Linked DNA regions of Homo sapiens. The protein of the gene in region 1 purifies or fractionates together with the protein of each later gene. This does not show direct contact. Each region holds a gene or a part of one and is shown on either strand. Other genes may lie near its edges.

What was found. Proteins that work in one complex are often made in the same cells at the same time.
Region 2: the proteins of CEP112 (region 1) and ERC1 purify together in Homo sapiens (affinity purification with mass spectrometry; one large-scale study listed by BioGRID and IntAct). This does not show direct contact.

Annotation. Positions count from the first base shown.
Region 1 is NC_000017.11:65,635,987-65,639,638, forward strand, and holds part of CEP112 (centrosomal protein of 112 kDa), read right to left. Parts: intron 1,203-3,652; coding exon 1,138-1,202; intron 1-1,137.
Region 2 is NC_000012.12:1,025,647-1,029,298, forward strand, and holds part of ERC1 (ELKS/Rab6-interacting/CAST family member 1), read left to right. Parts: intron 1-2,101; 5' UTR 2,102-2,257; coding exon 2,258-2,926; intron 2,927-3,652. UniProt on the Homo sapiens protein: Regulatory subunit of the IKK complex. Probably recruits IkappaBalpha/NFKBIA to the complex. May be involved in the organization of the cytomatrix at the nerve terminals active zone (CAZ) which regulates neurotransmitter release.

The DNA.
Region 1 (3,652 bases):
AATCGCAGTCACGACTTTCTCTAGGTTTAACAGGTATGTCAATCAAAAAATAAGCTTCAATTCTGGAGAAGTTGATAGGGGTTGAAAAGGCTATTTGATATCAAAATGTCATAATTTATGCTTATCTATAAGGGATCAAATCTTACCTACACCGAGCAAACAGAATCTTTCGAAAAATGTGTGATTCACAAGATCTTTCCTTTTAATTCAAAGCCAAATAAGTAGTTCAGTCTTTCACTGCACAAACAGGAAGGGCGTTTGATGGAATTACAGCAGGTAAACACAATCTATGTTAGTGATGGCACTGGGAACCTTTGACTACAAAAGGTCTCATGCATCCCCAAAAAGAGCACTGAGGGTACTCAAGTCACTGTGAGTGCTGGATCACTGAGCTGTTGGTCTATTCTGGTCTGGAGAACAATGCCAAACCCTTGGGGGAAAGGACTTTGAAGATGTGAGCTATCCTAGCAAGTACTGCATCATCTCACTATCTTAAAGGAAGATCGTGTCTCCTTCACTCCATCACTGGGCCTCAAGACAACATCTTGTCCTCTTGTCCAGGTAAGGCCTGGACCTGCCATGCCCCTGCAGATCCTTCCATCTTTCATCTTTCTTTTTTCTTTTTCTTTTGTTTTTTTTTTTGGAGACAGAGTCTTACTCTGCTGCCCAGGCTGGAATGCAGTGGTGTGATCTCAGCTCACTGCAACCTCCACCTCCCAGGTTCAAGCAATTCTCCTGCCTCAGCCTCCTGAGTAGCTGGGATTATAGGCGTGTGCCACCATACCTAGCTAATTTTTGTATTTTTAGTAGAGACAACGTTTTACCAAGTTGGCCAGGCTGGTCTTGAACTCCTGACCTCAGGTGATCCTCCTGCCTTGGCCTCCCAAAGTGCTGGGATTACAGGAGTGAGCCACTGTGCCCGGCAGATTCTCTCATCTTGTTTTGATAGTACAGACTAAGCACTGGGATGAGAAGGGGGGTGACTTCTTAAAGACATGCTACTTACTAAAAACAAGTCTTTTTCAAAACTTGTATTATATCCAAGCATTTTAATAAAGACAAAGGCCAGACAAGGAGGCTCACAGGTGACACAACACAAACTAATCAGGAGACAAGACACCTGCTTATGGGCTGTACCTTCTGCCTTGATATGTAGTCAGTTCTTCCTGAAGGATGGAAGCTCTCTTTTGCAGAAAATTAACCTAGAAAAGACACCTTGTGTGAGAAGAGGTGGACGTGGCTTACATGTCAATATTGTGCAAATAGTATGGTAAGATTTTATTTAAATTCAGACAATTCCCTAGATAAAACTCAGAGGATTTGTTGAATGTCAATGTTGTGTTTTTTACATTTGGTCACATCCCATCCTTATTGAAAATCCATCAGTTACGACAGAATAAAGTTCAAACTCCTCATTGCAGAGCCATTTTGATCTGGCCCACCCCCATCATTGTGGCTTTACCTGTCCTCACGCCCTGCCCACCACTGCTGCTTCCACACCGTGTCTTTCTCGCTCCGTTGCTCTTTGGCCCAGGCCATTTTCTCTCTTTGGAACACTTGTCTTTCTGTCTCCCATTCATCCTCCACCATTTGGTTTAAATGTCACCTCTCCTGTGGAATCGTTCACCTCCTCCCCAGCTGCTCCTTGCCTCCTAGCCCCAGGCAAAGCCAGCGGTCCCCTCCTCTGTGTTCCTCCCCTCTATTACTGGTACTTCTCAAACTGCTTTGTGGTTATTTGTTTTCATATCTCTTCCCTAAACCTGAGAGCTTCTCTTGGGCAGGAATGACTTTTCTGTCTTTCCACCCCAGTTTCTTTTACAGGGCTGGGCATGTAGCTGGTTTCACTAGCTGTTGAATGAATGAATGAATGAGTGAGTGTAAGGAAAATTACTGCTTTCTGGAAACCTCAATCCATTCTAGGGATTCCCTGAGGTTGGAGAGACAGAACTTCATAGCGGAAAGAGCCTGAGCTTTGTCTGGAGTTAGGCCAACTTTGGTTCAATTCCTGGCTTGCCATCTGTGGCTCTAGGAAAATTACTTAAGCTCTTGATGCTTAATCTGTGAAATGGGATTAATGACAGCTACTTCCCAAGGTTATGAGGATGACATGAAACAACTATAGAAACCGCCTAGTGCAGAGCTCAAAGCAGGTACAACCCCCAGACCGCCATTCTTAGGGGGCTGGAGGAAACTGGGTTGTTTAGCATATTCTCTTAAATCAGACCTTTACAAAGCATTTGATTATTGTGTAGCATACATTTCTGTACTGTTAAAGATGCCTGTATCAGGCGTGGATTCAAAAGCACCTTACACAACCCAAATGGTTTGGGGCCAACTTATACCATGGCTTAATGTAATCAAGAGTCAGTGGTATTTGATCGTTTCAGAATTGTTTATTCTTACGTCTTTGGTCTGAACTGAAACCATGGCAACGGTTGATCCCGAAACATAGTTATGCAAGGGAGTACAGCTGGCAGAACAGAAAATGTGCTTGAAAGAGAAGAAAACACAGTCTTTCTAAGTGGGTGCATCTCAAAGTGGTCCTCCTGGTTTTGCTTATTTGTATAGCACCCTGGTCTTCATTTTATCCAATTGCTCAAGTGACCCATAGGACAATTGATAATTTTGACAGATGCAGGGATTACACTGATTCAACTTCCCTCCCCCAACCATGCTCTGTAATCGGAATTCCAACAATTCTCAAAAAACACAGGCACCTGTGCTTTCAAACTAAATTTGCTCACTGTATGGCCTGTGACTCCTGCGTGCAGCTGCCAACTCTGAGGCCCTATCGCAGCTGGCAGCACTCTCTTTCTGGGTCAGCATCCAGTTTTAGGAGGCTGAAGTGGCTTTTATTACAGTGAAATGATATGAATGATAACAGAAGCCCTGCAGGTGGGTATCAGATTCCTTTTTTTTTCCTCTTCCTAAAAAAACTCCTCTGAAGGCGTCAGGTCCTACATAGCTGACACTATCTGTAGCTCACCTACAAACTTAATGGGTAAACCACACCTGGAGTGGAGATTTTCATGTAAATAAAAATTATTTAACCCTTTGTATGTTCCCATTCTCCTCCACTACTTATTTTTATATGCAGGCGTGAACAAAATTTCATAGCCCTTAGAAGCAAAATCGCAAACAGTAGCATATGGATTGAGATTATGAACATTTCATTTTCAGATAAGAGAAGTTTTACTAGGGGAATATAAAAGGAACAGCTAAAATGTGTTCCACATTTTATCTTACATACTATAAATAGATAACGTGGATATCATCAAACCATATCATTTATTTTATTCATAAATATATTTATTAAGCACCTGTTATGTGCCAGGCAAAGTACTTGATACAGGGAGTAAATAAATCCTTTCCTTCATGGAATTTTTCAAGGAAAAAATATGTCTTAAACTTCAAAGTGGGCTGGGCACGGTGGCTCATGCTTGCAAAATGAGGCTGAGGTGGGCGAATTGCTTGAGGTCAGGAGTTCGAGACCAGCCTGGCCAAGATAGCGAAACCCTGTCTCTACAAACAAACCCCCGTTTCTAAAAATTAGCTGGGCGTGGTTGCATGCACCTGTAATCCCAGTTACTTGGGAGGCAGAGGCAGGAGAATCGCTTGAACCTGGGAGGCAGAAGGTGCAGTGAGCTGAGAT
Region 2 (3,652 bases), on another chromosome or scaffold:
GTGAAGACGAGTATACGTTATGTTTCTCAAAGAGCAACAAGTATTTAAACTTCATTTATTGAGTGATTTTTCATTTCCTCACTGTATTAGTCTGTTCTCATGTTGCTAATACAGACATACCCGAGACTAGGTAATTTAAAAAGGAAAGTTTTTTTTTTTTTTTTTTTTTGAGACGGAGTCTCGCTCTTGTCACCCAGGCTGGAGTGCAGTGGCGCGATCTCGGCTCACTGCAATGTCTGCCGCCTGGGTTCAAGCTTCTTATGCCTCAGCCTCCTGAGTGGCTGGGATTACAGGCACCTGCCACCATGCTTGGTTAATTTTTGTACTTTTAGTGAGATTGGGTTTTGCCGTGTTGGTCAGGCTGGTCTCGAACTCTTGATGTCAGGTGATCCACCCGCCTTGGTCTCCCAAATTGCTGGAATTACAGATGTAAGCCACTGCACCCTGCCAGGAAAGAGGTTTAATGGACTCTCAGTTCCACATGGCTGGGGAGACCTCACAATCATGGCAGAAGGCGAATGAGGAGCAAAATTATGTCTTACATGGCGACAGGCAAGAGAACTTGTGCAGGGGAACTCCAATTTATAAAACTATCAGATCCCATGAGACGCACTCACTACCACCAGAACAGTAGAGGGGAAACTGCGCCCATGATTCAGTTAAGTACACCTGGCCCCACCCTTGATACATGAAGATGATTGCAATTCAAGGTGAGATTTGAGTGGGGACACAGCCAAACCATATCACTCACTGTTTGGAAACGTTACTTTTAACATATATTAAATTCCCATATATAATTTAGACCCTGTTCTTGGGCTAGTACTATACAGTTTTCGTTATTATAGTTTTACAAGGCTACAATACTTTGTAAGAAACCTTGCAGGTCAGATGTGGTTTTGTTGTCAGGAATTTTTTCCAGTAATACTTAGTGGACATTATGTAGTATCCAGTAATCACACACATTGTTTTCTTAATGAAATATATGAAGTCACACTATGTGGGATACATATAAACAGTAAGTAAGCTCAGATCAGGTCAAGGTTTGCTGCTAGATGAGTTAAAAGGAAAATCTTATTTTCAGAGGTTTTTGGATTTTTGCAGTACAAATGAAGAATTATGGATTTGTAATTTATGTTGCTGTTGAGGGCTGTCTTCCTTCCTTGTTCATCTATTTTAAATTGTTTGGTTACTCTTGTATCTTTACTCTCCATTTGAATTTTAGAGTCAGCTTGTTGAGTTACTTGAAAAATCCTTCAACACCTGTGAAAGGAAGGGATCTATAGCTGGTTAGCAAAATCCTGTAGAGATTTTTCACTGGGATTGTGCTAAGTAGTTGGGGAAGAACTAAATCTTAGCAGTGTTTGTCTTCTCATCCATGAACACAGATAACTTTGTTTAGGTGTTCTTTCATGTCTTTCAGTAAAATGTTATAGTTTTTTTCCCCCAAAATTCTTGCACATTTCTGTTGATTTACATCAAAGTACTTTTATGGTTTTGTTGCTGTTGTGAATGGGATTTAAAATTTCCTTTAAATTAAAAACTGCATTTTCTAGTTGTTACTACTGATGTATACATTGATACTTATATATTGATATTGAGTTTGACCAGTTTGTTGAGTTCTGTTATTCTAATAACTTGTCAGTTGATTATCTTGGGTTTTCAGTTAGCAAGTCAGATATTCAGACATTGAGTTTAATCTTTTCCTTGTCAATCTTTATACTTCTTGTTTTTTTTTCTTTTTCTTTTTTGTAGACAGGGTCTTGCTATGTATCCCAGGTTGGTCTTGAACTCCTGGCCTCAAGCGATCTTCCTACCTTGGCCTCCCAGAGCGCTGGGATTATAGGCATGAGCCATTGCACTTGGCACTTTTTTTGTTTGTTTTCCAGTTGCATGGTATGTTTTCAGCGTTCAGTTTTGAGACATCTAAAATATCTCTAAAATATTGTTTACTATGAGTACATTATGCTGTAATCACATTCTGAATGCGTGAGTACATACATGGTAGAAGGGCTAGATCTTCTTTAAGTGGGGGTAATGGAAAGTCTCTGAGAAGGGAAATATTTATTATTGGAGGATTTAATGTGTGATCTTTTCATTACAGATATGGTGTAAGATACTTCTTCAAGATTGGACAGCTGGGGACCTTCTTCTGATTAACCTTAAACCAACTTGTAGCCATAGAGACACCTCACAAGGTTCCCATTTTTGTTGTTGTTGTTGTTGATTTTCTGCTCACACCTTTCCTGACCTTGCAACCATGTATGGAAGTGCCCGCTCTGTTGGGAAGGTGGAGCCGAGCAGCCAGAGCCCTGGGCGTTCACCCAGGCTTCCACGTTCCCCTCGCTTGGGTCACCGTCGAACCAACAGTACGGGAGGGAGTTCGGGAAGCAGTGTTGGAGGTGGCAGTGGGAAAACCCTTTCAATGGAAAATATACAATCTTTAAATGCTGCCTATGCCACCTCTGGCCCTATGTATCTAAGTGACCATGAAAATGTGGGTTCAGAAACACCTAAAAGCACCATGACACTTGGCCGTTCTGGGGGACGTCTGCCTTACGGTGTTCGGATGACTGCTATGGGTAGTAGCCCCAATATAGCTAGCAGTGGGGTTGCTAGTGACACCATAGCATTTGGAGAGCATCACCTCCCTCCTGTGAGTATGGCATCCACTGTACCTCACTCCCTTCGTCAGGCGAGAGATAACACAATCATGGATCTGCAGACACAGCTGAAGGAAGTATTAAGAGAAAATGATCTCTTGCGGAAGGATGTGGAAGTAAAGGAGAGCAAATTGAGTTCTTCAATGAATAGCATCAAGACCTTCTGGAGCCCAGAGCTGAAGAAGGAACGAGCCCTGAGAAAAGATGAAGCTTCCAAAATCACCATTTGGAAGGAACAGTACAGAGTTGTACAGGAGGAAAACCAGGTAAGTTCTACGTGTGTTTACCTTTATTGGCTGAATTCATGTATATAAATGAAATAGCCTTTTTTTCCCCTTTCCTAGATTTTTCCCTTCGTAGTATATGTATCTTCCTTTTTCCTATTGATTTTACTGTTTTGTGTCCTCCATTTCTCAGCCCTTTCCAAATTTGGTCCTGTACCCTGTTTTCTTCTAGCTGCCCATGTCTCCTTGCTCCCATTCTTGCTTGGTTCTTTTCTCTGGTTTCTCTTTCTCTTCGTGTCTTTCCTTTCAGCATATGTTATCTTTTTTTTTTTTTTCCAATTCTTCTGAGAGTATAATTTTGCCACACTCTCTAATATCTATTACCAAATGTATTTTAGAGTAGGTAACTTAAATGTAAGGTATACCATTAAGATTTGTCATAATGTCAAAAAGTCATTCTTAAAAACAAAACAAAATGACTATCACAGGATAAGTCAGTGTTGTCAGCTGAGAACAGAAATTACTTTTAAAAAGTTAATGTTGGCCGGGTGCAATGGCTCACACCTGTAATCCCAGCACTTGGGAGGCCGAGGTGGGCGGATCATTGAGGTCAGGAGTTCGAGACCAGCCTGGCGACGTGGTGAAACCCTGACTCTACTAAAAATACAAAAATTAGCCAGGTGTGATGGCGTGTGCCTGTAATCCCAGCTTCTAAGGAGGCTGAGGCAGGAGAATCACGTAAACCTGGGAGGCGGAGGTTGCAGTGAG